Homo sapiens: one gene and its partners. The protein of the gene in region 5 interacts with the protein of the main gene of each other region in a pairwise test. Each region holds a gene or a part of one and is shown on either strand. Other genes may lie near its edges. The genes, in order: JRK, NDOR1, EAF1, CINP, ZNF620, EXOSC5 and BFSP2.

Region 1 (4,335 bases), on a different chromosome or scaffold from region 5:
GGTCTCGTGTTCGCTGGCTGATCATTGCAGTATCAGAGGGTGGAGATGTCAGTCTGTCCACGTGGAGAGAAGTTGCCCTCCAGGCCGACAGGAGGCCATGCCCACCGCCCCTGGACAGGCTTCGTCTCAGAAGGCTCTATCTGCTGGGCTGGCGGCCATCCCCGTGTTGGGTGGACCCCGAGCACGGTTGCCTGAGGTCCGATGGCCCGAGAGCTGGGACTCAGTTCTTGGCCTGCTAGCGGCTGAACAGGCCGCACATCTCACTTCAGTTGTGGCCTCATTCAGCAGAATGACTCTGGAACCATCCTCTGTTACCCGCAGATCCTGTCCCATGGGCTCTGGCCCCAAGATGTTGGGGGGCCCCACGGAGAGTTGACTTGGTAGAGTTCCTTTCTGGGAAGAAAGTAGGAGTGGCTGACCAGGCCCTGCTCATCACCCGGATAGAGGACACGGACCCTGTGTGGTATTTTGGCATTTTGGCTCAGAGTCCAATGTACCATGTTGCCCAGAATTTCATACTTATGGCCTTTACATGAATACGTCTTGATCAGACATTCAGAGATTAGTCTTAGGTTTGCACGTAAGTCACTGAAAACAGTAAAACAGGCTGCTTAGATTTCTAGCAGTATGTGTGCTCTTATCCCCAGCTGTTAGCACGTTAGTAATACTTTTGGGGAGGAGTTGTCTGTCCTGGTCAGTTTTCACAGAGGCGGTTGTAAGAGGATGTGGTTATTTTCTCCATGTCTGTAGTTGCTTTGCGGCATCTCCATTTCACGGGCAACACTCACTGCCTGCAGCTGAGATTCCAGAACGCCCTGTGTCCACAGTGATTAGCCTCGTCTTTCAGCGAGCATAAAATAGGTGCATTGTCCTTTTCTTTTCTTGAGGCAGGGTCTCACTCTGTTGACCAGGCTGGAGTGAAGTGGTGTGATCCCAGCTCACTGCAGCCTCGACCTCCCTGGCTTGAGTGATCCTCCCGCCCCAGCCTCCTGAGTAGCTGGGACTAGAGGCACGCACCACCGCGCCTTTTTATTTTTTTTGTAGAGACAGGGTCTCACTGTGTTGCCCAGGCTGGTCTTGAACTCTTGGCCTCAAGCGATCCTCCTTCCTCATCCTTCTAAAGTGCTGGGATTACAGGTGTGAGCCACAGCACTCGGCCTAAATAGGTTTTTCTTGCTATGTTATTTTCAGTGCTTTGCCCTTGAATTCTTTTCCTCTCTTAAATTCATATCATTTGGCCGAGTCAGCACGTAGTTTGCATTCCAGCGTCTGCTGTTGATTCCACTGAAACCTCTGTTCTCATGAAGGAGAGGATTTGGCTCGCTGTGGTTTCTCGTACTTTCACATCTCTGTAGATACAGGGGCAAAAGTCATTGCTGACAGAGCCCTATCTATGTCCTGGAAGTGTGTGTTTCTTGCTTTGAATGCATGTGTGAAGATTATAAAAGCCAAATAGTTTTTAAAGATCTCGGTGCTGAACGACAGTCCCAGTTCCCATTTGTGTCCCATTGTCTTTGTGGTGTCACCCGCACTGTTTGCTTCATTGTCTGGGGAACTTCTGCACATCATGTACTTTGTGCCATTTCTGGGCTCACGTGTCACTCCTAATAGAGCCTCTTAACCAAGACTGCTGGATTGCAGCTGCTTGAGGCAACACAGGAGGTTAGAACATGTCCCGAGGGCTCTGAAACAGTAGGACATCCTGGGTGGGTGGAGCTGGGGAGGGCATGGGCAGGCCAGCTGGCCGAGCTCCTGGCTGGCTCTCCTGAGTCCTCTGGACATGGCTTGTCCCTGTCAGACTGTAGCTCTTCAGGACCTGAGCTCTTCCCGTTCTTGATCTGCTCTTGTGCTGACTGTGCTGGGCTGATGGGTAGGCGCTTGTCCCCAGTGAGTGGCTGTGTCCTCAGGGTGCCCCTCTTCCAGACCAACTGCAGCAAGGCCTGGAGCCTGACTCTAGGTGCAGCCCTTGTGGCTGGAATCCCTTGTGCCACCCAGGGGACTCGGGCCCTGCTCCTCCTGCAGCCCCTCCTCACCTGGGCTCGCTGCTGGAGTGAGGTTTTTAGGGAGCCCAGAGCGTACTCATCTCTGAGCTGCTGGGCCCAGCTGCCTGGTGCATACCTCTTGCCTCGGTCCTGTCCCCCAGAACGCTTTATGGAGACTGCCGTGTCCTCCGAGCACTTTGTTTTCACTTCCTGACCCGTCTCAGAAGCTCAAGTGGTTGAATGTTTTAGCCTCAGAATCTTTTTCCCCAAGCCCTCTCAGGTGGAGCCCCGCTGTACCAGACACCACAGCACAGCTCTGTGAGGCTGTGTCTCTTCACTCTGTTTCTGGGGCTGCTGAGGCCCCTGGGAAGCCCTGGAGCTTGCCAGAGCAGAGCGAGAAAGTCTCTGGTCCTGTTTAAATGCCTCCGCGTTTTATCTGTGAGCACCAGGCTGGAGCCACTCCCTGTCTTCTCACAGTGCCCCTGCAAGTTGCAGCCTCAGTTTTCCAGTGGCTCGTGGGGTAGCAGGTGCTGCGTCATATGGTTTGGGACCTCTGTGGCTGCTTCCAGCCTGCTAATAGAACCTCTTTCCACCACTGCCTTCATCTTTGGGGTGGCACCCCTGAGTGCTCAGGCCTGAGGGCGCTCCTGTGTCCTCACTCGGGACAGGCAGCCTCCACTCTGGGAGCTCCCATCCCTCGGGATGCCCAGGAGAGGCCATACTTTCAGGGTGGCATGGTGAATTCAGGGGTTAGGATGGGTAGGTGGTCTTTCAGCCCCTTCTACGTTGGGGTTGGTTTACAGAACACCTGTCCTGCCTGTGCCAGCCTGGCCTTCTGCGAGCACCCCAGGCACGCTGTCCTGGAAGTTGTCTGTCTCCTGCATAGGAGGGTCTAGAGCAGACCTTGCCCTGGGCCTGTCTGTGCGTGACTTCCATATGCTTCATTCGTGCTCAGCCATGGCTGAGCATGCGATGGAGAGCACCTGGACTGCCCCTGACGTCGCAGGCCACTGTTCTTATCCAGTGGGCCAAGTGATTGATTGCTAGTGGTGGAGTTGATTGGAAGAAAGGAAGTCGCAGCCCCTGCCCACGGCTTCCCCAGCTCGCTGGGGTTGGAGGACTGTCATCAGTTGTCCCCAGTTAAAGTCCATTTGGAGGAGGTTCAGGGTCCCAGTGGCTGGATGTGCTTGTGGAGGGACACGGTTTGAGGCAGGGGTTTGCAGAAGGTGTAGACTGCATCCATTCTTGGGAGGCTGTGGCACAGGGCAGCGACAACTTGGGACAAATCAAGACCCGTCCACACTGCACCTCAGGGACCTCACCTCACGCCCCACATAAATGTGCTTATTGGGGATCCGGGTGTGGTGGCTTCTGCCTGAAATCCCAGTACTCTGGAAGGCCACGGCAGGAGGATCACTTTAGTTCAGGAGTTTGAAACCAGCCTGGGCAACATAGGGAGACCCCATCTCTACAGAAAGTAAAAGAAAATGAGCCAGGTGTGGTGGCATGTGCCTGTAACCCCAGCTACTCAGGAGGCCGAGGCGGGAGGATCCCCAAGCCCAGGAGTTTGAGGCTGCAGTGAGTTATGGCCTCTGCACTCCAGCCTGGGTGACAGAGTGAGAGACCTAATCTCTAAAAACAAAAAATAACAAAATGTGCTTTGGGGTCAGGTGTGGAGATCAGGGTCGGGGAGGTCATGAGGTAGGTAGGGGTCAGGATGTGGACAGTCATGGGCTGGTGGGTGTGGCAGCCGTGAGGGGTGGGTGGTGGCCTGGGAGGCAGGGCCTGGGCAGGGCTTCTGCACTTCTGCTGCTTACCCAGCCCCCTCTGGGTTCGAGGACTCTCCTTGACAAGGGCTGAGCTCTCGGGCACTGCGTTGGACTCAGCTGCCTACTGGGAGGCTGGGGAGAATGGACCTGTGAGACCTTGTTTGTCCTCTTCCCTGCCCAGCTCTTGTAGACCCCAGGCCTGGCTGTCCGCAGGGCCAGGAGCTGCAGCCATGGCAGCCACCAGCCTCCCACATGAGCCCCAGCTCCCAGCCCCACACGCCCACTCCTTTGCCCATGTGGTGTCAGCTCTGGCCTCTGCTTCTACACATGGACCCTCAGACCTTGCACATCTGTTGTTTCCCTTGCAGGGCAGTGATGATGACATGAAATGAGGTGGGGTCACTCCTGTTTAGGGATGAGACTGGGGCCCAGGGAGGGGCAGGTGTGAAGTTGCTGAGGGCAGAGGGAGACCCAGGGCTACCTGCTCCTAATGACCAGCCTCACGTTCTCCACTGCTCACTCCCTGCTGTTCACCAGCTGCATGACCTTGAGCAGTGCACTCAACTGTAAACAGAGGTGAAAAC
Region 2 (4,335 bases), on a different chromosome or scaffold from region 5:
CAGGACAGACCCAGCCGCATGCCAGTCGAGTGAGGGAAAAGTCACAAGAATGTTCTCTCCAGAACCCTTTTCTCGGGAAGGAGGAAGTTCACCAAACGGAGCAGGGAAGAGAGTCTTTTGGGATTCAGGAAGCAAGGGTGTCTCAACAGCAGGGCGCTAGGGAGGGTCTCGGGGGCAAGAGGCTGGGTACATTTGCTCGCATAGCGTGGCCCAGAGAGGCAGCTGATGAGGCAGTGAGGTCCCGGGAGGCCAGGGGTGGTCCAGGGCCAGGGTCAGAGCTGTGGGCTGACAAGGCCAGGGCCTCCCTGTCTGCTAGCCTCCATGCTTGGCCACGGGAAGGGGAGGTGGGTGGGCGGCGAAGACCACGCACACAGGCCACCTGGGATCCAGGTAGGGAGGGGGCAGTAGGTTCCTTGGGGGGGCCTCTGATCAAGCTGGGAGGACACCGTGGAAGGCACGGTGTGGAACCAGAGGATCTGGACCCTGTTGGCTCGAGGTCCTGCAGCCACGGAAGGAGGGGGATGTGTCTCAGCGACACTGGAACCTCAGAGGGCCGAGTGTGAGAGCCCTTGGGATGGACCTCAGAGGTCTGAGTATAGGAGCCTCTGGGACAGACCAACTCAGGGAGTGGAGGCCCACGCTCTGGCTGGGAAATGACAGGTGGAGGTGAGGGACCCCTGGGGCGGTGGACAGTTTGGAGACCAAGTGCAGAGCTGCTCCTGGCAGCTCAGAGCCTGGGGCAGAGGAGGGTGATGTCCCAGGAAGGAAGCTCCACGCAGGCCTGTAGAGCACAGCAGGGTCTGGCTCCTGTGGGCAGGGTGGGACCTGGTCTCCCTAGACGCTGGACCAGCCCTGCCTCCTCCCGGTGCCCATCATCCTGCAGGCTGGACCTGGGCCCTGCCTTTTGGTCAGATAGGTCCAGTTGTATTCTGCCCCCATCCTACCCACCTGCCTGTTCCCCTGAGACCCTCCCCTCACCCCCTGCTGTGGGGCTAGCCTAGAGGTCGAGGACTCTGACTCAGAGTTTCCTCCGGCTGTAGAACTTCTGGAGGTTTATATTCCGGAAGAACCTGCCCTCCACTGCCCTCTGTCAGATGGACTTTGCCGTCCTGGGCCTCGGGGACTCCTCATACGCCAAGTGAGTAGGGGATGGGACAGTGGGCGGACGGAACAGTTCTGGGGGTCGAGCAACAGGTGTGCTGGCAGAGGACCGAGACCAGCTTCCAGGGTCGGCCCCTGCGCGCCTCAGGGCCCTCGCAGTGGTACTGGCTTCTCCACAACGCTCCCTGGTGGGCACCCCAGGCTTCACGCTGCGGGGAGGGCACAGAGGGGAGCAGGCAGGGTGGCAAAGGGCTGGGCTCCAGCCACGCTGACGTCACACAGGCCTACCTGGCGCCGGTCCCCACTTTTACAAAAAGGCGTGCTGTGAAGTGTTGACGACTTTGAGCCTGGAGGAGGACCCCGTATGCTCCTGCCACCCCAGAGGCCACCTCTGCCTTTTCTCCTGGGCATTTTCACAGTGCTCCTCTGCACCCTAAGCAAGGAGTGGCATGTTCAGTGTGCAAATGGCATCTTTAGACCCCACAACGGTGAAAACCCCGACTGTCCACGTAGGGCCCAGGTCCGCTGAGCACCGAGCATCAAAAGCCGTTTGCATAGCCAGGTGTCAGTCATTTCAGATGAAAAAGAACGGGAAGATCGGAGACAGCTCCCCCCGGTTCTGCCGGGAGGTTTTGTTCCGTGCGTGACGTAGGTCCGTGCATGACGTTGTTTCCTGCGTGACGTTGTTCTGTGTGGGACACAGTGTTCGTTCAAGAGAGGGAGGGAGGCCGCTGCCGACAGCGTTCCCAGGGAGGAGCGTGACCCAGAGCCAGTCATGCCTCGGAACCAGAGTGAGAAGAGAAACTGACCCCCGGGAAGATGCCTGGCTCTCTCCCCAGCACAGAGTTTCTCAGCTGAGGAGTGACCCACATCTTGGCTGGGGGCCTGGAGGCCTCAGCTGCCTCAAGTCCCTGCCCAGGGATGAGGGCCCATCAGTGGGACGAGGCCGCCTGCTCCCACCCACACAGGCTCATTCTCTGCGAGCAGAGGACCTGCTGCTTGGCACCCTGGCAGCTGCCCTGGTCTCGGCAGCCCCTGGCGTGTGGAGGCCCTGCCCCCTCCTAGGGTGCGGCCAGCGTGGAGTGTGTTTTCCACCCGAGGGAGGCCCTCCCCAGGCTCCACTCTTCGCCCGGGCTCCACTCTCCCGGGTTCCACTCTGCCTGGGCACCACTCTCCGCCCGGGCTCCAGCCCAGGACCAGCCTCACTGTCTCCACAGGTTCAACTTCGTGGCCAAGAAGCTGCACCGACGGCTACTGCAGCTTGGGGGCAGCGCCCTCCTGCCCGTGTGCCTGGGCGATGACCAGCATGAGCTGGGGTGAGTCTGCGGGCGTGGTACCCGCCTCCACAGTCTGGTCTGGCCACACGCAGGGTCCGCTCAGGCCAGCGCACGTGCTCCCTCCCAGGCCCGACGCTGCTGTGGACCCCTGGCTGCGAGACTTGTGGGACAGGGTTCTGGGGCTGTACCCGCCGCCTCCGGGCCTCACTGAGATCCCTCCCGGAGTCCCGTGAGTGTGGGCCCCGGGTCACCCACAGGCGCAGCAGACCCAACCTGGCCTGGGGACCTCGCCCTGGGTCCCTCCCGTGTGGGTGGGCGGCCCCTGGGGAGTGGGTCCTGGTCTGACCAGCGTGCCCTCCCACAGCCTGCCCTCCAAGTTCACCCTGCTGTTCCTCCAAGAGGCACCCAGCACGGGCTCTGAGGGGCAGCGGGTAGCTCACCCCGGCTCTCAGGAGCCCCCGTCAGAGTCGAAGCCCTTCCTAGCACCCATGATCTCCAACCAGAGAGTCACCGGCCCCTCCCACTTCCAGGACGTTCGGCTGATTGAGTTTGACATCTTGGGCTCTGGCATCAGGTGGGGACTGCTGGGGACCGAGGAGGGCAAGGTGAGGTGGGCCGTGGGTCTGGGGTTCGGAGGAGGCTGGGCCGGGCTGCAGGGGATGACTTCTATCCGGGGCCCCGACATCCTCCCTGCGGCGTCCCCACAGCCCTGGTGGCTTCTTCCACACAGCTTTGCTGCTGGTGATGTGGTGCTGATTCAGCCCTCCAACTCGGCTGCCCATGTCCAGCGGTTCTGCCAGGTGCTGGGCCTGGACCCTGACCAGCTCTTCATGCTGCAGCCGCGGGAGCCAGGTGAGCCCAGCCTCGGCCACCCTGACTCTCTGCCCTCTCCCGTGCCCTGGGCCCCCACCCCAAGGGCTCCGCCGCAGCCCACGGAGGCCTCCCACTCACCCTGCAGATGTCTCCTCCCCCACGAGGCTGCCCCAGCCCTGCTCCATGCGGCACCTCGTGTCCCACTACCTGGACATCGCCAGCGTGCCTCGCCGCTCCTTCTTCGAACTCCTGGCCTGTCTATCCCTCCATGAGCTGGAGCGGGAGAAGCTGCTGGAGTTCAGTTCTGCCCAAGGCCAGGAGGAGCTCTTTGAATACTGCAACCGGCCCCGCAGGACCATCCTGGAGGTGAGATGGGAGGGCGGCAGGCCCAGCCCCTGAGCTACAGCCACGCTGCAGCCACCCTGAGACTCTCTTTGCCTAGGTGCTCTGTGACTTCCCGCACACAGCTGCCGCCATCCCTCCCGACTACCTGTTGGACCTCATCCCCGTTATCCGGCCGAGGGCCTTCTCCATCGCCTCCTCGCTGCTGGTGAGGGGCCTGGTGGTTGGAGCCCAGGACCGGCCCTGGGAAAGCTGGGACCGGGGCTGTGGGGTTTTGTAAGCAGGGGCTGCCCTCTGACCAGGTGACGTTCCCCCAGTCGGACTGCCTCTGCGGGAGGTAGGTGGGGCCCACGGCCCAGGCACAGGTGAGGGCAGCCTTGTTCCACCACCCCCACCCCGCCGTCCTCCCCAGACTCACCCCTCACGGCTGCAGATCCTCGTGGCTGTAGTGCAGTTCCAGACTCGCCTCAAGGAGCCCCGCCGGGGCCTCTGCTCCTCCTGGCTGGCATCCCTGGACCCTGGGCAAGGTGACCCCTGCTCCCAGGGTGGGGGCCGTGGGCCCATATCCCCTTCTCTCCCATGCTCATGCAAATGCTGGGCTAGGGCCCCAGCAGACTCAGCACAGGTCTTTGATCCTCTTCATGCCACCTCCTTCCTGCAATAGGACCTGTCCGGGTGCCCCTCTGGGTGCGGCCTGGGAGTCTGGCCTTCCCAGAGACACCAGACACACCTGTGATCATGGTGGGGCCTGGCACTGGGGTAGCCCCCTTCCGAGCAGCCATCCAGGAGCGTGTGGCCCAGG
Region 3 (4,335 bases), about 25 Mb from region 5:
TTCTCTACCTCTTTTGATGTCATCCAACTGAGGTTCAGGTGAGGGGTTATCTTTCAAGGGAGAAGTTTTGGGTCCAACTGGAGGCTTCGTTGGAGCTCTGAATGGCATAGGTGGTGGAGGTGGTGGTGGCTGTGACGTCTGTGGAGGACGAGTGGGCTGCTGTTCCATTCGGGCCTGGATTTTACTGCTGCCCTCAGCTCTGAAAGGAGATACAGACATTAAATTAGCAGGGCAAAAATAGTGGTTCTCAAATTTGTCCAGGTGACTGAAAACTCAGAAGTCTCTGTAGAACCCCATGTTCTTTCCAGACCACTTCAAAATACTGATACTTGTAATTTTGTCATGTGAGCTATTCATTCAACATTTGAGTGTCTACTGTAATCCAGTACTATATTATGTATCAGGGATACAGACATGAATAGAATATTTACTGCCCTCGATGAGCTCAAATGTATAGCAAACAAATGTAGGATATAATGAAACTATGAAAATCCATTTTACTAGTAGAAAATACATTCATGCATCCCTTAACAATGAGGGTAAGTCCTGAGAACTGCATCATGAGGTGATTTCATCATGCAAACAGCAGAATGTACTTATGCAAACCAATATAGCATATAATTTTTTCACATGAAAACCCAAATGTCCCACCACCATAATTGAATATCAGTCATTCCCCCTACTTGATCTGCAATGCCAATATCAAGTGCCGTATATCAGGTTTCCATACATGCTCCATTAGAATCTTAAGGGACCACTGTCATATATGTAGGTCACTACTGACCAAAACATCATTATGTAATTATAATCATGAGTGCATGAGTTCCTAAATAAAGTAGCTCCTAAAATATTGCCCAGCTTGAAAATTTTTTCCATTATCTATATACTGCTTGTTCATTTCATCACATGCCAGCTCTTGCTGGCAGACAAGCAGAATTCCATCCCAAGCTGAGAATATTCTATCAGTTAACAATTTCTTTTGTAAATGGACTAGCCTAGTGCTTCTAAAACTTTTGCTTATGCACAAATCACCTGGTGATCTCTGCAGATTCAGATCTCATAGGTGTTGAGATTCTGCATATCATCTAGGTAATATGATACTGTTAGTTCCCATATCACACTGAGTAGTAAGGGAATATACCACAACCATCAGATATTGGAGGAATATCGGTAGCACCTGGTTCACTGTAGGTAATGAATACAAATAAATAGAGTGGCAGGACAGGAGCAAGGACTCTGCAGCACACTCTCCGGGGTAGGTCAAGCTCTCTAACCCTCAGTCTCCGTACCTTTTTTTTTTTTTTTTTTTTTTTAGATAATAGCACCTTTCGTACTCACTTCGGCAGCACATATACTAAAATTGGAATGATACAGAGAAGATTAGCATGGCCCCTGTGCAAGGATGACACACAAACTCATGAACAATTCCATATTTTTAACAAAAGAAGTAAAAAATAATAATAACACCTTTCTAAAAATTACTTGTTAGATAAAACAATGCATATAAAGCATCTAGCAGAGTGCCTGGGACATGATACCCCCTCAATAAATGGTACCTATTTTTATTTTCTGTGGAATGAATGAATGAAAAAAAAATGGCTTAACGAAGCATAAAAAACATCAGGTTGTGACAATCTTTACAATTTAATTACTGTATTATAATAATTACTGTATTATAAGTGAGCTATGATTATGCCACTGCACTCCAGCCTGGGTGACACAGCAAGAGACCTCGACTCTTTAAAAAAAAAAAAATACTGTATTATATGGTAACAAATAGAACCACTAGGTTATTTCTATTTATAGAATGAATTTTTATTTTCAAATAAACTCTAACTGGCTTCATTTTAGACATGTAGCAACTGTTGAATTAAAGAGTTCACTATATTAAAAAATAGGCAAAGTTTTATTTTGGTATTATAGTAATCTCAAATGTATCTTGTAAAAAAATTAATGTTTTCACTCCAGTTAAGTATAGTATATATTGCTCCTTCATAATTATAAGTCTATAAGTTATCTTATCCCTTAGGTGGTACTGTAGCAATCATGAGATTAACAAAATAGGCTTAATTATAAAGTATATCCCCCTTTCCCTAATGGTTCCCATGTTTTAGGTCTTAAAAAACATTATTTCTTTTTATTGCATTTGAGGAAGACATATTTTACTCTGAGCACATATTTACATATTTTGTCTGAGCACAGGTAGTGTTAAGATTATTGATAGAACACTATGAGCAAGCAGATGTTCACAACCTTATAAAAACTGAATAGATAACAGAGGTTTGGAAACATGATATAAACCTGCATCTGGCTATTCACATACCTTGTTTTCTTCACCTGAATGCTGCTACTGAGTTTTTCCAGCACATATTCACCAGTGTCATGATTAATAATAAGCACACAGTCTTTCTGGTAAGGCCGTTTGTTCCCCTTGAACACAGTCATGGGTGGTGTGGATCCCTATTTGCCACAAAAGTATAAGATGATCAAACTAAACATACCAGTTATGAATATCAACTGAATTTATAGATGACTCCACCTGATGAAATCTTTTATCAGAGCTATTCAAAAAGAACAGGTTGAACTGATTTCTATTTTATCTCCTTCTGGTTTCCGAGGCAAAAATAAAGGAGAAATAATATAGCAAGAATTTGTGAATGTGCAACGCGTTCTAAGTAATCAAAAAGGTAGTATAAAAGTTTTAATTACTATATACGTTCCAAGAGAGAAAAATTAACCATTACTTTCATTATACTAAGCAGAGTTATCACTCTGTATAGTAAAACTGTGAGTGATCTCTATTTCTTTGTCATTAGAGAGACCAGGGTTTCCCCTTCTCATGTCAAGCAACCAACAGAGCATTTTCCAAGAGAAGGTCATTATCCTGGTTGGCTCAGAATAAATAAATCATGTCACTCATCTGCCTAAGCCTTTCAATCACTCCTCAATTGCTCTCAGGCCAAAGGATAAAATCTTTAAACTAGCCACTTGGCCTTGCACTACCGGGCCCTTCCCTGGCTCTCCACCTCACCCTGCAGCATACTCCCCTGCGCATGTGCTTCAGAGCAGAAGGCAACTGGCTTCCCTCCTATCCTCAAGCTCTCTCCTGCCTCTGGGCTTTAACAAGGCTTCTGCCAGCTTTAACAAGGCTTCTGCCAGCTATATCCTGCCCCCTCTCTTTAAATGACCCAACCTCCAGATCTGCTCACAGATACTTCCTTAAGGAAGCTGTCCCTGATTTTGTAGAATAACTGCTATATTTTCTTGTATTAATTTAAACTCCAGACCATAAGCTCCACCAGGGCAAGAAATGTGCTTGTTTTGTTCAAGGTTATATACTTCATGCCTAGTAATGGGCCAATGTGTGGGAGGCATTTGATTAATATTTGTTGAATATCATATTTAATGCCTTGCTTAGAATAAAAAACTGCTTGGCTCTTTGACTCCTTATTTATATAGTAAAAATATAGAGCTAGAAAGAACTTTAGGGACCATTTTTCTAAACCTTTCATTTTACATATGGGAAACTAAGGTCCAAAGGGAGATGATGTAACTTGCCAAAGGTAACAAGTAATCAAACAGCAGTTTGAATGGGCAATTTTTCCTCACCACAAAGCTTTCCAGATCTCCCTGTCCAGAGACTTTTCATTCTGTCTCCAGCTACCGAGAACTTATGTTCCAGGACAGGGGTGTGACATGCAATAACACATGTTCACTAAGAGCATCATGTGACCCTTTGGTGCTTTGTCATTAGTGCTGCCTTGGGCAGAGCTTCACAAAAGTCTTTCTCTGCAAGGGTTCTTAATCCAGCTTTCAATTTAGTTCTTCATCCCTAAATCAGCTGAATGTGCCACACCTGTGGTTCCTGCCTGCCTTAACTCCTGGCTTGGTTGCCTCACACTCCTGAGCTGTTGTGGCCATATAATCAGCAGGGCACCTAGGGCTTTTCTGTCTGGAGTTGCTTGGGAGAAAAGCTATATCTAAAAGAGGGGCTAGGTGTCCAGACAGGAACCTTGTCTACTCAGTAGCAGATGGGGGAAAAGGAAGATTGGGGAAAACGACGAATAATCTTTTTTTTTTTTTTTTTGAGGGGGAGTCTCACTCTGTCGCCCAGGCTGGAGTGCAGTGGCGTGATCTTGGTTTACTGCAACCTCTACCTCCCAGGCTCAAGCGATCCTCCCAGCTCCGCTTCCCAAGCAGCTGCAACCACAGACATGTGCCATCACCCCCAGCTAATTTTTTGTATTTTTGGTACAGACGGGGTTTCACCATGTTGCCCAGGCTGGTCTTTAACTCCTGAACTCAAGCTATCCACCCACTTCCACCTCCCAAAAT
Region 4 (4,335 bases), on a different chromosome or scaffold from region 5:
TTTTTCTTTTTTTCTTTTTTTTGACACGGAGTCTCACTCTGTGGCCCAGACTGGAGTGCAGTGGCTTGATCTCGGCTAACTGCAACCTCCGAAAGTGATTCTCCCGCCTCAGCCTCCCAAGTAGCTGGGATTGCAGGCACCTGCCACCACCCCCAGCTAATTTTTTGTATTTTTAGTAGAGATGGGGTTTCACTATGTTGGCCATGCTGGTCTCAAACTCTTGACCTCAGGTGATCCACCTGCCTCGGCCTCCTAGAGTGCTGGGATTACAGGCATGAGCCACTGCGCCTGGCCAAAACAAAAATTAAAAAAAAACAAATAAAAATACAACAATTAGCTGGGTGTGGTGGCAGGCACCTGTAATCCCAGCTACTTGGGAAGCTGAGACAGGAGAATCACTTGAACCCAGGAGGCAGAGGTTGCAGTGGGCAGAGATCACCCCACTGCACTCCAGCCTGGGCAACAAGAGTGAAACTCCATCTCAAAAAAAAAAAAAATTAACAAATGGGAGGGAGGGAACAAATCTCCCACGCAGAATAATTCCAAATAATTTATGTAGATACTGCACCCTCAAGCAGGTGGTGAATACGTCCCTACCCCCAGGTGTGGGCTATGCATAGTGACTTCCTGCCAAAGAGCACAGCGTGGGAGGAGGAGAAAGAGCAACGTCACAGCAGAGGAACCTGGAAACACTGCCCAGCCAGGTGATCAAGGTCAACTTCAGCAGTGGAAAGTCCTGGCTGTGCACAGTGGCTCACGCCTGGAATCCCAGCACTTTGGGAGGCTGAGGTGGGAGCACTGCTTGAGCCCAGGAGTTTGAGACCAGCCCGGGCAATAGGTGGGACCCAAAGAAAAGTCCTGATGACAGTATATCCAGTACGTGCCCTTGATATGACATGATAGAAATGGCACTTTACTTCTGTGGTCCTCCTCTGAACAAAACCCGTAACCTCAGTCTAATTAGGAGAAAAACATCAGATAAATCTCATGATGTTCTACAAAATACCTGACCAGTATCCCTCAACATTGTCAAAGTCATCAAAAACAGGGAAGTCTGAGAAACTGTCACGGCCAAAAGGAGCCTGAGGAAACAAGGGGACTCGATGTCATACAGGATCCTGAAGCCAAAACAAGACATGACGGAAAAGCTAAGGCAGGGCGCCAGGGCTCACACCTGTGATCCCAGCACTTTGGGAGGCCAAGGTGGGAAGATCACTTCATGTCAGGAGTTCGAGACCAGCCTGGCCAACATGAGAACCCCGTCTGTACAAACGAATTTTAAAAATTAGCCGGGCATGATGGTTCATGCTTGTAGTCCCAGCTACTCGGGAGGCTGAGGCAAGAAGATCACTTAAGCCCAGGAAGTAAAGGCTGCAGTGAGCTGTGATCATACTACTGCATTCCACAGCGAGACCTTGTCTCCAAACAAACAAAAAGGTGAAAATATAAAGATCTTAAATGTTTATGGGTAAGCTTCAGTTATCCAAGTTCAAATATGTGTAAAACCTGATTTCCTGTGCCTAGCAAAGAAATAAGGTGGTGTTATCTTCACATCTGGTGGCCAGTATGGTAGGTATTGAAATTTAGTTATTAGTTCATTAAACAAACACTTTAGTCTCTTACGTGCTGTATCAGGGATGGGCAAACTATCCCTGGAACACAGGTCAATTCTGGCCCATAGCCTATTTCTGTATGGCCCATAAGCTAAGATGGTTTTTACATTTTTAAATGGTTGAAAATAACCAAAAGGACAATAGTGATTGTGACTCATAAAAATTATACAAAATTCTAATTTCGGTGTCCAAAGATAAAGATTTCCTGGACGAACATGGTGGCTCACGCCTGTAATCCCAACACTTTGGGAGGCTGAGGTGGGTGGATCACTTGAGGCCAGGACTTCGAGACCAGCCTGGCCAACATGGTGAAACCCCATCTCTACTAAAAATACAACAATTAGCTGGGCATGGTGGCGCACACCTGCGATCCCAGCTATGTGGAAGGTTGAGGCACAAGAATTGCTTGAACCCAGGAGGCGGAGGTTGCAGTGAGCCAAGATCTCGCCACTGCACTCCATCCAGCCTCAGTGGCAGAGTGAGGCCCTGTCTCAAAAAAAACAAAAACAAAAACAAAAAAGGCCAGGTGCGGTGACTCACGCCTGTAATCCCAGCAGTTTGGGAGGCCAAGGCAGGCTGATCACTTGAGGTCAGGAGTTCGAGACCAGCCTGGTCAACATGGTGAAATGCTGTCTCTACTAAAAATACAAAAATTAGCTCATGTGGTGGCACGAGCCTGTAATCCCAGCTACCTGGGAGGCTAAGGCAGCAGAATCACTTGTACCTGGGAGGCGGAGTTTGCAGTGAGCCAAGATCATGCTACTGTACTCCACCCTGGGTATCAGAATGAGACTCCATCTCAAAAAAAAAAAAAAAGAAAATCCAAAAAACAAAGATAAAGTTTTCATGGAATGCAGCCACATCCATTTACGCATATATTATCTATGGCTGTTTAGTCCTATGTGGCAGAGATGAGTAGCTGAGATAGAGACTGGCTGGCCCTGGAAGCCTAAAATATTTACTCTGTGGCTGGGCGTGGTAGCTCATGCCTGTAATCCCAGCCCTTTGGGAGGCCAGCAGGTGGATCACCTGAGGTCAGGAGTTTGAGATCAGCCTGACCAATATGGTGAAACCCTGTCTCAACTAAAAATGCAAAAATTAGCCAGGCATGGTGGCGGACGCCTGTAGTCCCAGCTACTCTGGAGGCTGAGACAGGAGAATCGCTTGAGCCCAGGAGGCGGAGTTTGCGGTGAGCCAAGATCACGCCATTGCACTCCAGCCTGGGCGACAAAGCAAGACTCCATATCATGGAAAAAAAAAAAAAATTTACTATGTGATGAGCCCTGAAAGTGGGTGACATTTCCCCGGATGACGCACAGGAGGAGTGAGTGTCTAAGACAGCATCTTGGGGAACATTAAGGTTTACGCAGCAGGCAGAGGAAGAGAACATCAGAGGAGACTGAGAAGGAGTAAGTGATGGCCAATGGTCAAGCAAACCCCAAATACGTCCATCGGATTCAGTGACAGTGACCACAAGTGGCCTGCGTCTTTATGTCTTACCAACCCATCCAAGGTGGCCTGCAGTTCCTCACACAGCTTCTCCAGTTCCTCGTTATATTCCAGACACACCTTTTCTTCATTTTCCTTCGAGGCTGGGCTGCTGCTGTCTAGTTCTATCTTGTCTTTATTCCTAAACAAAATAGAAAATAATGTGTACAAAATATACTCTTTAAGCTTGCCTTATTTCCTTATAATAAATTCTACAAACCTCTATATCCACATAGTTACGTGGGACATTTTGCATAAGCATTGTTCTTTCATATCATTATGATACAAATGCAGTTATTATTTATATGTGCAATGAATATGTCCATTGGTCACTCAATTTTGCACCAAAATAAGTCAGTTAAATTCAGCCATGTGACAGCCGGTTTTGGTGGCTCATGCCTGTAATCCCAACACTTTGAGGGATGGACGCGGGAGGACTGCTTGAGTCCAGGAGTCTGAGTCCAGCCTGGGCAACACAGTGAGACCTCATCTCCACAAAAATTAAAAGTAAAAATTAGCTGGGCATGGTGGGACACGTATGTGGTCCCAGCTACTTAGGAGGCTCAGGTGGGAGGATCACTTAAGCCCAGGAAGTCAAGGCTGCAGTGAGCCATTATAGCACCACTGCACTCAGCCTGCACAAAAGAGCAAGACTGTCTCAAAAAAAAAAAAAACACCATTCAGCGGTGTGGCATCCTTGGCATAGGGCATGGTGCTGGATGTACAAAGATGAATAAGACATGGATCATTTCCTCAAAGAGTTCACAATCCAGGAATATAGGCACGCCTCATTTTATTGTGCTTCACCTTATTCAGTTTCATAGATAATGCATTTTTTACAAATTGAAGGTTTGTGGCAACCCTCTGTATGTAGAGCAAGTCAATCAGCACCATTTTGCCAACAGCATGTGCTTACTTCATGTCTCTCTATCATATTTTGGTAATTCTTACAATATTTCAAACTTTTTCATTATTATGTCTATGATCTGTGATTGGTAATCTTTGATATTGCTAGTTTAATTGTTTTGAGGTGCCATGAACCATGTGCATATATAACGGCAAGCTTAATGAATGGATGTTGTGTGTTCTGACTGCTCCACTGACCGGCTGCTCCCCTTTCTCCCCATCTCCTTGGGCCTCCCTGTTCCCTGAAATAGGAGGATACTGAAATCAACCCAATTAATAGCCCTACATTGGCCTCTAAGTGTACAAGTGAAAGGAAGAGTTGCATATC
Region 5 (4,335 bases):
GAATTATCTGATGCCGAATAAGTAATGAGTTATATCTGAAGTATTTTCCACATTCTTTGCATTCAAAAGACTTTTCACCAGTGTGACATTTCTCATGTCGGTGGAAGTCTGCCATTTGAATGAAATATCTGCCACATTGTCCACATTCATAAGATATCTGACCACTAGGATTTGTCTGATTTGTAGTGAGTTGTGTGCTGACGCTAATATTTTTTCCTAATTTCTCAAACTTCTCTCCATTCTTGACCTCATAGGCCTCATGGTGCCTGGCTGAGGTATCTGTGAAATGTCTCCTCTTTGACTTTGTCTTAATTATCCAATGACCTTGTGGCTGCTCTAGGCTGCTCCCAAAGTCAAGGTGCTGGGAAACATTCCCTGGCAGGCCCCCCACCATCAGTCTGAAGGACTCTGTTTCTTTGGACACATGATCCTTTGGAGTTAATCCTTCCTTCTCAGTTCTGGCCTCATCCCCTATCACAAAAAGAAAATACAAATGTCAGTCCCTGATATCACACACACACACACACACACACACACACACACACACACAATATCTGTGCTGAAGAAGAAACAGAATCAAGTGGTTCTAATTTGCCCTGAATATATGGATATTTTCTAATATGCTCACAAGATGGCTGCCTAAGATCACCACACAACAGAGCCCTGCAAGGGACATGAAAACTCTATGAGACGGGAGGGAAGCAAGGCCAGGAGGCATTCCCATAAACAGTGTGAAAACCAGAAAACTGCAAAGACTGTTAATTAGGGCAGAAAGACTAAGAGAAAAATGAATGAGGTGGATAAAGATGCAAACATAAAAAAAGTAACAAATGGAAATCCATAAGTGAGAGGAAGACTCCCAAGATTAGAGAAGGGGCAGGCTGAGCAGTTCAAGCACTACAACAGGTCCCACAGGCTGAGATTCCTTAAGAGATGCTTGTTAAAAGACATCATGCATGTCATAACCTTGAAAAGAGAGCTGATCTCTACCATCAAGCTGGCTCTAGTAAAGCAGCAGGCTCCCATGCAGTGGTTGAGGATGCCATGCATGGCAACCACCACAGCATCCAGGAGAAAGGAAGGTTTGGAGGCTTGCCTTTAAAACCAAAAAGCACTGGAAATGTGAAGAACTCTTCCAAGAGTGAATGTAAGTCCCAAAGAGGGCCTGGTAACGATGCTTGCCATTTTTCCTAAAAGGTCTCATAGGTTGTGCATTTGTTTAATACAACAGTTTGAAAAGTGAACTACTAAACTCACATGATAATAAGGGAAAACCAAAGAGAAATATTCCCTCCACTATCAAAACCTTTTGCAGACTAAGTAAAATCTTCAGCCTGCATGCATTCACAAAAAATTGTTCAGAAAATATTTTTACTCAGATGACGTAGGGTCCTGAGGTCACATCCAGAAAGGTACAACTTAAACTCAAGACTTGGGGGTGGATCAGTAATGGGCATTCTCTGCAGAAGAGCACAGAAAATTTTCACAGGCAGAGAATGGGTGAAGCAGAATAAGAAAGATTAAAAAATATACTATGTTTTATGTATTTATTTATTTTTGAGATAGAGTCTCGCTGTGTCACCCAGGCTGGAGTGTGGTGGTGCAATCTTGGCTCACTGCAACCTCCACCTCCTGGGTTCAAGTGATTCTCATGCTTCAGCCTCCCCAGGAGCTGGTACTACAGGTGCACACCACCATACCCAGCTAATTTTTGATGTTTTTGGGTTTTTTTTGAGACAGAGTCTCGCTCTGTCACTCAGGCTGGTGTAGGGTCCAGCCCTACTGGGCCTCTGGGTTTTTCTCCTCATGTGCAGAGACGAGAGATGGTAGAAATAAAGACACAAGACAAAGAGATAGAAGAAAAGACAGCTGGGCCCAGGGAACCACTACCACCAAGATGCGGAGACTGGTAGTGGCCCTGAATGCCTGGCCGTGCTGTTATTGATTATGTACAAGGCAAAGGGGCAGGGTATGGAGTGAGAGTCATCTCCAATGATAGGTAAGGTCACACGAGTCACATGTCCACCAGACAGGGGGCCCTTCCCTATTTGGTAGCCGAGGCGGAGAGAGAGAGGGGACAGCTTACATCATTATTTCTTCTAGAAGGCAGAGCCAGGTGTACAGGGCAGAACATGAAAGTGGACCAGGAGCGTGACCACTGAAGCACAGCATCAACAGGGAGATGGTTAGGCCTCCGGATGGCTGCGGGTGGGCCTGACTGATGTCAGGCCTTCCACAAGAGGTGGTGGAGCAGTCTTCTCTAACTCCCCCGGGGAAAGGGAGACTCCCTTTCCCGGTCTGCTAAGTAACGGGTGCCTTCCCAGGCACTGGCGCTACCGCTAGACCAAGGTCTGCTAAGTAAGGGGTGCCCTCCCAGGCACTGGCATTACCGCTAGACCAAGGAGCCCTCTGGTGGCCCTGTCCCGGCTTGACAGAGTGCTCACACTCTTGTCTTCTGGTCACTTCTCACAGTGTCCCTTCAGCTCCTATCTCTGTATGGCCTGGTTTTTCCTAGGTTATAATTGTAGAACAGAGATTATTATAATATTGGAATAAAGAGTAATGCTACAAACTAATGATTAATAATATTAATATATAATCATATCTATAATCTATTTCTAGCATAATTATTCTTATTCTATATATTTTCTTTATTATACTGGAACAGCTTGTGCCCTCAGTCTCTTGCCTTGGCACCTGGGTGGCTTGCTGCCCACAGGCTGGAGTGCAATGGTATGATCTCAGCTCACTACGACCTCCACTCCCCAGGTTCAACCGATTCTCCTGCCTCCGCCTCCTGAGTAGCTAGGATTACAGGCACGTGCTACCACGTCCATGCTAATATTTTGTATTTTTAGTAGCGATGGAGTTTCACCATGTTGGCCAGGCTGGTCTCGAACTCCTGACCTCAGGTGATCCACCCACCTCGGTCTCCCAAAGTGCTGGGATTACAGGCATGAACCACCACACCTGGCCATATATATATATATATATATATATATATATATATATATTTTTTTTTTTTTTTAGTTGAGACGGGGTTTCGTCATGTTGGCCAAGCTGGTCTTGAACTCCTGGCCTCAAGTGATCCACCTGCCTCAGCCTCCCAAAATGCTGAGATTACAGGTATGAGCCACCATGCCCAGCCTATTTTTAATTCTTATATCAATAGCCATCGAAGTGAGAAAGTTATTCACCTTTAATTTACAATAAATTTTGCTTCAGAAATTTTTTTAAGTATCTGTGGGGGAAAGATGAAATAAGAATCAAAGGATATTTGTGACTGTTGAAGCTGGATGAAGGATACATGGAGTGCATTATGCTGGTGTTTGCATATATTTGAAAATTTCCATTATAAAAACAAACTTTTTATTCTTTAAGTCAGTGCTTAAACAATGTAGCCTATGATATGCAGATGGCCAGCCATGTTGCCAGAAGCCTATTTTCCTCCAAAGGTGGCTGACATCCTCATCTTTGCAAAAACAAACTGGCAGAAAAATAAAATGTTTTCATGTGACAGAGAAGAAATGAGCTGGTTTAAGTGCTGCCCAATCAGACAGTCTCCCTTGGCAGGTTGTGAGGAGGACAGGCAAAGACGAATATGCAAAGAAATCTTACAGTCATTCCTGTCTTAAAAGAGACTGGCCCTTCCCCAGTTGAGGTAGGCTACCACCATGAACTCAGAGAATCACATGTAATGATTCCACAGGAACAAAAACAGTCTCCCAAGAGAAGAAACACTTCTTGCACAATGAAATGTGAAAACAAGAAAGCAAGCCAAGCCAAAAAGGCAGCTAGTGGGTTCTCATGCTCACCTGGACAGATACCTCTGAGAGCCTCCCTGCCCATAGGTTCCCAGGGATCGAGGCCCCATGGCAGTTCCCCTTGCTCCAGCTGGGAGACCAGAACAGGCGTGGTGAATGGGAATGCTGCCCAGGGAGAAAGAAACAGGAAAAGGTAAGGGGAATCAGGAACCAGGATCCTCTTGCAGCCCCCTTTATCTTTATCTGCTGAGCCAGGTAGTGAGAGACAAGGTGAGTCAGGGAGAAACTTAATCTATGCTGCTGGAGGACAGAAATTTCCCACAAAGTGGCACAGAGTCCCAGAATAATCCCACGCTCACATAAGGGAATCTCAAGTTTTCTTCAGAGAACTTGGAAGACACAAGGGGCTTTGCTGTGCTCCCAAGAGCTCCTTTCCCCCCCATGTTTTGGGTACAGCCCCTCCCAGGGTTGGAGGGACAGGTGATTTCAAAACCTGGGAACGCAGGGCTCTCTCCACCCAGAAACTTCCAGGCAGCTCAGCCTTCAGGGCAACAGAGAGTTATTAGAAACC
Region 6 (4,335 bases), on a different chromosome or scaffold from region 5:
GCCTATGGCAGACATCACTAATCGGTCACAGAAGGGCAGTATGGCAGAGTGGTTAAAAGTGGTCCGGGGATCAAGTAGCCCTGGGTTCCAGACCTAGTTTTGCTCAGCTGTGTGACCTTGAACAAGTGACTTACTCCTTGAGTCTCAATCTCCTCATCTGTTAGATGGGGAATATAATAATATTCAATAGGTATGTACTGAAGTACGTACCACACATTTGTTGGCAAATAGGGTCAGAGAGGGGAAGAAACCTTCCAAAGACACGAGGGGGAGGCACTGGCAAAGCCAGGCCCGAAACTTGGGTAGCAGCCACTCCCCGGTGACAGAGCTGGCAGGGCAATGGAGGAAGAGCCACCTCGCTGCTGCCTGCAGGAAGCTCACAGTGGAAAGAGAGCACAGGTTGGGAGTCAGCTGGCTCTGCCTCAGTTTCCTAATGTGTTTCTTCTCCAGGCCTAGCAGCCAGACAAAGACCACAGCTTTAGTCAACCGGTTCCAGCTCTGCTGCTGATCCTCCACGCCTTCCTCTGGGCTTCACTTTCCACTTCTGTAAAATGGGGTCACAATACCTTCTCTCTCTGCCCATCCATAAAATGTCTGTCCAGTTCAGGGCCACGTTCCAGTAAAGCCTTCTACAGTGTCTAATTCTAGTCCTCAACCTCAACCTCTCGCACCTCAGACATGGAGATCTTACAAGGCCACGCTCCTGACTCAGCTGCTGTCTGCTCAGGGCGCCCCCAGCACTGAGGGCCTGAAATCCACTGAGGTGCCGAGTAGAAGTGATTGCCAGCCGGGCACAGTAGCTCATGCCTGTAACCCCAGCACTTTGGGAGGCCAAGGTGGACTGATCACTCGAGGTCAGGAGTTCGAGACCAGCCTGGCCAACACAGCAAAACCCCGTCTCTACTAAAAATACAAAAATTAGCCTGGCGTGGTGGCAGGCACCTGTAATTCCACCTGTAATTCAGGAGGCTAAAGCATGGGAATCGCTTGAGCCCGGGAGGTAGAGGTTGCAGTAAGCTGACATTGCACCACTGCATCCAGCCTGGGTGACAGAGTGAGAGCCTGTCTCAAAAACAAACAAAAAAACCCAAAAAACAAAAGAAGTGATTGGCACAGGCTCTGGAGTCAGACTGGCCTGGGCTTGAGTCCTGCCTGTGCTGCCTTCCAGCTGTGTGACCTTGGGCAAGCCCCTTCCCCTCTCTGGGCCTCAGTTTTGTCACCTGAAACATGCGAACATAAGAACACTCATCTGCCAGGGTCCGTGGGCTCTAGAACTAGACGGTCTGGGTCTAAGTCTTGGCTCTGCCACTTCCACGGGGATCATAAGGGCATGTGCTATATTACATGAGTTAATGTGCATAAGGCACACAGAACAGTGCCTGGCACATAAGTAAGCACCCAGGCTGTTTGCTCTCCTTCTTCAGTGAGCTGGTACCTGTCAAGTGTTTGAAGGCTTTCTGGCTAGCAGTGAGGGTATATGTATCCGCCAGGAGGGAAGCAATCAGGAGACTTCCTGGAGGAGGAGGCCTGGCAGAAAGGATACAGAGCCGGCATCGCTGACAACCTGCAGCACCACGGTGATGGAGGTGCGGGGGTGCAACGTGCCCAGCACCACCGCCTCGCACGTGTTCCTGATCAGCCGCTCCCGGCTCTTCTCTGCAACACCTGGGGAAATTGAAGAGAGGTTCAGGGTCTTCCCCTTCATTTGACTCACCTTCCTCCATACGCCTCACCCAAATTCCCAGAAAGGGCTCACGGTCTCAGCCTGGGATGGTGCAGTTACCTGCAGGGATGATGGAAGATTCCAGTGGGAAGAAGGCAAGGCCTGACTGCCATCCACTGACCCCTGCTACCTCCAGCATCCACCAAGGGAACCATCCAAGGGAAGAAGACCTGGGAGTTCCATGTCTGTGCTGCTACCCACGCCCACTCCCACCCTAGCAGGTCCAGTCAGTGGGGACTGAGGGATATGAGGGTAAAAGGGTGGAAAAACAGGTTAATGGTCCAGGCACAGTGGCTCGCGCCTGTAATCCCAACACTTTGGGGGGCTGAGGCGGGCGGATCACTTGAGGTCAGGAGATCAAGACCATCCTGGCCAACATGGTGAAACCCCATCTCTACTAAAAAAATACAAAAAATTAGTGGGCATGGTGGCACGTGCCTGTAATCCCAGCGACTCGGGAGGCTGAGCCAGGGGAATTGCTTGAATCTGGGAGGCAGAGGTTGCAGTGAGCTGAGATCGTGCCACTGCACTCCAGCCGGGGTGACAGAGCGAGACACTGTCTCCAAAAAAAAAATAAATAAATAAAAATAAATAAAAGAAAAACAGGTTAATGGAATGAATGAGAGTGGAGGCAGAGAGAGGGAGAAAAGAGGGAGGGAGAAATTAGAGGCAGAGAGAGAAGCAACAGAAGATGAGTTATTAATTAGAGGCGGAGAGTTAAAGACAGAAACAGCTGAGTGGAGACCCAAGCGGGGAGTGGAGACTCGGGGCAGCTGGTAGGGAGGAGCTGGGGGGGTGATTTTGACAAACTGGGCACCACTCAGAGGTTCAGCAGGGCCCAATTACCAGGCAGCCCAATCTTCGGCCTCAGGATCACTTCGAGTGTGGCCTTGTTGAAAATCTCTTTGCTGACCTTCACCTCGGCCGGCCCGTACACACCCGCCAGGACAGAGGTGTCACCTGAGGAGACAGCAGGGAGGGCCTCACTCACAGCTTCCCTGCTCCTGGGGCCCCATTTGTGGCACTGAGCCTGACGGCCAGGGCTCCCCACGTCACCCCCGCCATTTGTTGGTACTGATTCTTTGAGCACTCACTTCATTTCTCTCATTTGTAAAATGGGGAAAATAGCAGTCCCTCCCCGCTAGCGTCTTGTGAGGATCAAAGGACACAATTCACAGAAAACACTTAGAACACTGCGGGGCTCACGCTGAATGTGCAACAGACTTTAGCTGTATTAGTAACATTCGTCCATTCAGGCATTCAGGCAGGGTCTCACTCTCATTGCCCAGGCTGGAGTGCAGTGGTGCCATCACGGCTCATTGCAGCCTTGACCTTCTGGGCTCAAGTGATCCTCCCGCCTCAGCCTCCCAAGTAGCTGGAACTACAGGCATGTGCCACCATGCCTGACTAATTTTTATATTTTTAGTAGAGAGGGGATTTTGCCATGTTGCTCAGGCGGGTTTCGAACTCCTGGGCAACTGTAATCCCAAGGTGCTAGGATTACAGGCGTGAGCTACCACGCCTGGCCCTGATATTAGTAATTTTTTTTTTTTTAATGAGATGGAGTCTTGCTCTGTCGCCCAGGCTGGAGTGCAGTGGCGTAATCTCGGCTCACCGCAACCTCTGCCTCCCGGGTTCAAGCAGTTCTCCTGCCTCAGCCTACTGAGTAGCTGGGATTACAGGCGCGCGCCACCACACCTGGCTAATTTTTTTATTTTTAGTAGAGACTGGGTTTCACCATGTTGGTCAGGCTGGTCTCGAACTTCCTGACCTCATGATCTGCCCGCCTCCCAAAGCGCTGGGATTACAGGCGTGAGCCACTGTGCCCGGCTGGTATTAGTAACTTTTAACAGGAAGTTCTTCCTGAAAGCTAACCATCCTCCCTCTTACTGCAGCTGCTCTCAACTTCTCTTTCCAAAGCTTCCCCAGCCCAGCTCTTCCCTTAGGCACTGGCCCCCAAATTTTGCATCAGTCTGGACACCTGAGAAAGGGATAATATCTGGAATGAATCCTGATTCCTTATTTCCCCAGAAGCTATGAACGGGGTACAGGAGGTAAAACCTAAGAAATAAACAGCCTGGCTTCTAGTACTGTCTGCTGTAATCCCAGCACTTTGGGAGGCTGAGGTGGGTGGATCACCTGAGGTCAGGAGTTTGAGACCATCCTAGTCAACATGGTGAAACCCTATCTCTACTAAAGATACAAAAATTAGCTGGGCATAGTGGTGGGTGCCTGTAATCTCAGCTACTTGGGAGGCCGACGCAGGAGAATTGCTGGAACCGGGGAGGCGGAGGTTGCAGTGAGCCGAGATCACACCATTGCACTCCAGCCTGGACAATAACAGCAAGGCTTAGTCTCAATAAAAAAAAAAAAATACATTTTAGGCCAGGCATGGTGGCTCACACCTGTAATCCCAGCACTATGGAGGCCCAGGTGGGAGGACTGCTTGAGGCCAGGAGTTTGAGACCAGCCTGAGCAGCATAGGAAGACTCCTGTCTCTATTTTCTTTTTTGGGACAGAGTTTCCCTCTGTCACCCAGGAGGCTGGAGTGCAGTGGCGCAATCTCAGTTCACTGCAACCTCCGCCTCCCAGGCTCAAGTGATTCTTGTACC
Region 7 (4,966 bases), about 93 Mb from region 5:
GGAGGAGTTCTGTGGACAAGGGGGGGAAGAGGCAGCTGCAGGTGGAGAAACAGGAGGGGTAAGGAGTGCTGTGAGGAGCACGGAACACCAGAGCCCAGAGTCTGGAAAGGTGGGCATGAAGCCCCAGCCAGAGTGGCCTAAGTGAGGGCAGAGGGAGAGAGCTCTGGATTTCTGGGGCCCAGGACCGCAGAGTGGCTGCCTCTGACCCCAAGTGAGATGAAGGCAGCGTGTTGTGGAAGGACTGGGCTGGGAGGTGGCCTTTCCTCTAGGCCTGGAAAGGGGTGGGGGCCTGGTGGGGGCCTCCTGCAGCTCCACGAGGCCAGATTCACTGAAAAAATCAGGAGCATTTCTCAATTATGGAGTTTTCTTTTGTTCTTCTTGATGGAATAGAGTTTAATATGGCTGAAAGGCTGGGCTGTGCAATATAGAAAAAGTAACTCCAGGCTGGGCATGGTGACTCACTCCTGTAATCCTAGCACTCTGGGAGGCAGAGGCGGGTGGATCACCTGAGGTCAGGAGATCAAGACCAGCCTGGCCAACATGGTGAAACCCCATCTCCATTAAAAATGCAAAAAAATTAGCTGGGCGTGGTGGCGTGCACCTGTAATCCCAGCTACTCAGGACGCTGAGGCAGGAGAATTGCTTGAACCCGGGAGGTGGAGGTTACAGTGAGTTGAGATCGCACCACTGCACTCCAGCCTGGGTGACAGAATGAGACTCCATCTCAAAAAAAAAAAAAAAGAAATAATAACTCCATTTTATCAATTGGTCTTACTCTATCTTCAAGTCCATGATTTTTTAAAAAAGAAGAAAAAGAGAACTTTATTCATACCCAGGCCCTCATTTATAGTCACTTAAGAGGAAAGTGAGCCCATGTGGGATCCTGACCCTCAACTACAGAGGTCGCATGTCTTGGTGTGTGGCTGTGGTGCTCTCACAGGATTTTAGAGCTTCCTAGTCTGTACTCTACCTGTAAGCAGGAGCCAGGCTCTTATTTGTCTACAGATTTGCTGGAATATGTAAGCATTGTTATACCCATTTTGTAGATAATGAAACTGAGGCCCAGAGAAGTTAGTAAGTTGCAAAGGCTCTTGTAGCTATCTGGAGCCAGAACAAGTCAGTATCTATTGAGTATAAACTAAGTTTTGTGGCCCTACTTTTTAACCTAGCCATTGGGATACCTGATTTCTCCTGACAAGTCTGTGTGGCATCTGATTGCAAGCGATTGTCCAGCAGATGCTGACATATTGGAGTATCTAGGGATGTTCTGGTGGTTGTTATGGCACAATATTTGGAATAAGGACAGTTGTGAAGAATCCTGGAGGAATGGCTGCCTCTTAGATTTGACAGGCGTTAAGGCCCTGGACTGTTCTAAGATGGCTCTCCCTTGCAGCCCAGATGGATGCAAGCAGAACAGCAGCACCAGGGGGAGAGCCTGAGAGGATGGTGCTGTTCATCATGCACTCTGTGCTGTCAGTGGGCACTGACAGCAGTGCAGGAGAAGCATCCTGGGATGAAGTGGGAGGCAGGAGGGGCAAATGGGGAGTCCCTGTGTGCAACTGCTTAGCTTCCCCCAGCTATACACAAATAAAATTTTGTGACCTCCTCTTGGGAGGCTGCATACTGGACTCCAGGGGGCCAAGGGTCTGAGTTGGCAGTCCCTGGTGGGTTAGAGACTGATTTTGCTCAGAGGGATCCCAAGGCCAGCATCTGGAGAGAAAGAGGAGGAGGAGAGGTGAAGCCAGCTATCCACAGAGAGACCAGCTGAGAGGTGTAATGCTGGCTGGAGTCCCAGCATTAGAACTACAGGCTGCAGGCCAGACATGATGGATGTGCTCCAGACTCCGCAGAAATCACCCTGGAGAGTGGGAAAAGCAGGGCTGACCAAGCAAGGGAGAAAGATGAAACCTCTGCATCCTTCCCTGTCCAATAAGATAGCCATTAGCTACCTGTGGCTGTTTACATTTAAATTAATGAAAATTAGATAAAATAAAAATGCAATTCCTCAGTCTCATTAGCCACATTTCAAGTGCTTGATAGCCATATATGGCTAGTGGCTGCCAGATTGGACAGTGCAGATATAAGATATTAATATTTCCATCACGCAGAAAGCTCTACTTGAATGTAAATTACCTCATTAATATATTTTGTATTGATTACATGTTGAAATAACATTCTGGACATATAGAGTTAAATAAGCTATAATATTAACTTCACCTGCTTCTTTTTACGTGTTTTACTGTGGGTAATAGAAACTTGTCAATTACCAATGTAGTTCATATTTCTATTGAACAGCGTGGTTGTAGGTGGATACAGGAACACACCTCCATTTATTCATTGTTCTTAACACCTCATCCATCCAATGGTATTTGATTGGATAATAGCTGTAAAAATCCCTTCTCAACAGTAAAGGTGACTGAGGCAGCCCCAGGGTAATGGGGCAAATGCAACTTTGGAGGCACAAAAATTCAGGTTCAAATCTCATCTCCATCCCTCTACTAGCTTTGAAGTCTTGGGCAAATTACATGCCTCAGTTTCTCATCTGAAAAATGCAATCAGTGAATGATCCACTGCATAGCATTTCTTTGAAGTTTAAAGAAGACAGTGGGTAGTGCACGTATGGGGGCTAGCGTGGGCTCCTAGTAAACCTCGGTAAAAGGTAGCATTGTTGTTATCATTACCATTTTAAGTGTGAAAGTGTAGGGGATTATGGTCAGTTTCTCTGGCCTCAGCCTACTCACAACCCTACCCGCTGCCTTCAGCAGCCCCTCCCAGCCCTCTGCAAAGCCCTTGGCACAGCCTGGACACTTACCTGCTGGCAGCTGCTGGCCCAGGAAGCCCGTAGGGCACCCCAGTTTCCCGAGCGTGTGGCTTTGCTCTCCAGGTGCATCCGCAGTTGTGTTTCCAGCTCCTGACTGACTTGCTCAAGGGCGTGCACTTTGGCCATATATTCCACCAGGCAGCCCCCTAGGTCCTCAACAGCACCATGGTCCCTCTCCAAACCTGGAGCCGGCACGGTGGCCAGGCCTGAGCTCCGCAGGCCCTGAAGGAAGACACTGCTGATGCCGAGGGCCCGGCGGGTCACACGGGCACCCAAGCCACCTATGCACCCACTGGGTGCTGTTCCTACATAGACCCCGGGTGCTCGGACAAGGCCACTCATGGCATTGGTCCTGGAGGCTGGGGGGCTCTCCAGGGAGGATGATGACCGTGGCCCCCTGAAGGACGCCCTGCGCCTCTGGAGGGGCATGCTGGAGCTGGCACTGGTGGGCAAGTCCACTACCACTCGCCTCTCACTCATCACCCCTTCTGCCTCTGTGGTGCCCAGTGGGTTTACAGAGTCCAGTGGCTTTTGGTTTACAGCCCCAGCATCCCTGTGGCCTGGTCACGGGCCTCTCTGGAATCTCCCCTATCCCTGGGGCTGCTTTGTCTGCTGTCTTCCATGAGTTTCCATCATTCACTGAGCTGAAAGAGAAATGGGCACTGCCCAGGGCTGTGTGCAGAGAGGCACTCATGCATTCTTTGATGCAGGGTCATGTGCCCAACCTCCCAGATTATTCTGCTGGTGGTGGGGGAGGCTGGATCAGTGCAGGCTGTGGAGGTAGACCATTTGGGTTTGTGCATTTTACTACCTAAGTGGGCAAGGCAGGCATCAAGCAACCCCATTTTACAGATGAGTAAACTGAGGCTCAAGGACCTCAGATGACAAGTGTACTGATCACTTGCCCCAGACCTCAGATTACAAGCTAGGACTCAATCTAGCTATTTCAGGGCTTTCTACATCCCTATGTGTGCTGGCACATGTGAATGTGAACACATGTCCACACAGGCAATAGAGGATGAAAAATGGCAGGAGGCAGCTCCAGGGACCCAAGAGAAAAGACTTGCCTATGGTTTCCTCTCTCAGTCCTGGCAGCAGCTTCAGGTCCTTCCCTCACCTCTCTCCTTTCCTCCTCATCTCTGTCCTCTAATGCTCTGCTGTTCATCAGCTGCTTGCTGTTGGCCAGGATGCTTCCTCCCTCTGGACCTCACTGTCTGAACATTGGCTTGGGCCTTTAACTCTCTGATGCACCAGATAAGGACCTTGGGCAAATTCAGATCCCACACATGTTCCGGCCATTCCCTACACCTCTGCTTCTCCATCTGTTGGAAAACTGAGAAATAAAAACAACAACGAGGGTGTTTTCTGGTAAGCCTCTCCAAGGGTGCCCCAAGTTAGGATATGATGACACCCCTGGGTTTTAATTATTGACCTTGGCATCCACTAAGCCACCAAGGGTCACACCTCAATCACTTCTCTAGGATCAGAAAGGTTCCCCCAGTTACAGGATGACAACATGGACCTAAAAACCTCTGTACATAAGTTTTACCCTGGAGAAACCAGGTCACCAAACCCCAGAGCTGGATACTTTTCCAGATGCTGTAATGTAGGAATGTACCTCAGGTGAGAGAAGGAGAAGGGAGTCAATCTCTAGTGAGTAGCAGATCCAGCCTGGTGTGTGCATGAATCCTATGGTTTATTTCGTGGAATTCTCAACTCAACCTCAGGAGGAAGGAGGTCCAGGGTTGACAGGTACTGCCATATGGGCTGTGTACCTCACAGCTCTAAAATGACATGTCCTACAGTTGGCCACTGTCCTCTTATGTGAGGAGGACCCCGAGAGCTGCAATGACTTGCCCAAGGTTCTATGTCCAGAAAGTAGCAGAGCTGGGGGCAGACAACCTCTTCCAAACTCTGGGCCACTGACTTACTTAGGAGCCTCCCTGTTGCCCACCACCCAGAGAGCAGAGTACCTACCTGAGGTCACGCAGGTAGAGGTAAAAAACCTGGTCGCCTACTAGAGGACCCTGTGTGCACTTCCTTCCTACTGACCAGGACACTCCAACCCTTCCTTTCTTTATTGTCTTCCACTTTGTCTCTCTGAGATGGCCTGGGAGGTATTTTATAAATATCAGTGTTGGCTAT

What was found.
Region 1: the proteins of ZNF620 (region 5) and JRK interact in binary tests that used the Homo sapiens proteins (3 or more experiments, as listed by UniProt).
Region 2: the proteins of ZNF620 (region 5) and NDOR1 interact in binary tests that used the Homo sapiens proteins (3 or more experiments, as listed by UniProt).
Region 3: the proteins of ZNF620 (region 5) and EAF1 interact in binary tests that used the Homo sapiens proteins (3 or more experiments, as listed by UniProt).
Region 4: the proteins of ZNF620 (region 5) and CINP interact in binary tests that used the Homo sapiens proteins (3 or more experiments, as listed by UniProt).
Region 6: the proteins of ZNF620 (region 5) and EXOSC5 interact in binary tests that used the Homo sapiens proteins (3 or more experiments, as listed by UniProt).
Region 7: the proteins of ZNF620 (region 5) and BFSP2 interact in binary tests that used the Homo sapiens proteins (3 or more experiments, as listed by UniProt).

What each region holds. Positions count from the first base shown.
Region 1 is NC_000008.11:142,659,702-142,664,036, reverse strand, and holds part of JRK (jerky protein homolog), read left to right. Parts: 3' UTR 1-4,335. UniProt on the Homo sapiens protein: May bind DNA.
Region 2 is NC_000009.12:137,211,462-137,215,796, forward strand, and holds part of NDOR1 (NADPH-dependent diflavin oxidoreductase 1), read left to right. Parts: intron 1-1,040; coding exon 1,041-1,138; intron 1,139-2,318; coding exon 2,319-2,417; intron 2,418-2,505; coding exon 2,506-2,607; intron 2,608-2,742; coding exon 2,743-2,952; intron 2,953-3,108; coding exon 3,109-3,230; intron 3,231-3,336; coding exon 3,337-3,557; intron 3,558-3,633; coding exon 3,634-3,741; intron 3,742-3,945; coding exon 3,946-4,060; intron 4,061-4,197; coding exon 4,198-4,335. UniProt on the Homo sapiens protein: NADPH-dependent reductase which is a central component of the cytosolic iron-sulfur (Fe-S) protein assembly (CIA) machinery.
Region 3 is NC_000003.12:15,430,212-15,434,546, reverse strand, and holds part of EAF1 (ELL-associated factor 1), read right to left. Parts: intron 2,461-4,335; coding exon 2,324-2,460; intron 200-2,323; coding exon 9-199; intron 1-8. UniProt on the Homo sapiens protein: Acts as a transcriptional transactivator of ELL and ELL2 elongation activities.
Region 4 is NC_000014.9:102,352,655-102,356,989, forward strand, and holds part of CINP (cyclin-dependent kinase 2-interacting protein), read right to left. Parts: intron 3,244-4,335; coding exon 3,114-3,243; intron 1-3,113. UniProt on the Homo sapiens protein: Component of the DNA replication complex, which interacts with two kinases, CDK2 and CDC7, thereby providing a functional and physical link between CDK2 and CDC7 during firing of the origins of replication.
Region 5 is NC_000003.12:40,511,996-40,516,330, reverse strand, and holds part of ZNF620 (zinc finger protein 620), read right to left. Parts: intron 3,930-4,335; coding exon 3,816-3,929; intron 472-3,815; coding exon 1-471. UniProt on the Homo sapiens protein: May be involved in transcriptional regulation.
Region 6 is NC_000019.10:41,390,298-41,394,632, forward strand, and holds part of EXOSC5 (exosome complex component RRP46), read right to left. Parts: intron 2,684-4,335; coding exon 2,570-2,683; intron 1,666-2,569; coding exon 1,544-1,665; intron 1-1,543. UniProt on the Homo sapiens protein: Non-catalytic component of the RNA exosome complex which has 3'->5' exoribonuclease activity and participates in a multitude of cellular RNA processing and degradation events.
Region 7 is NC_000003.12:133,398,419-133,403,384, reverse strand, and holds the start of BFSP2 (phakinin), read right to left. Parts: upstream 3,330-4,966; 5' UTR 3,302-3,329; coding exon 2,813-3,301; intron 1-2,812.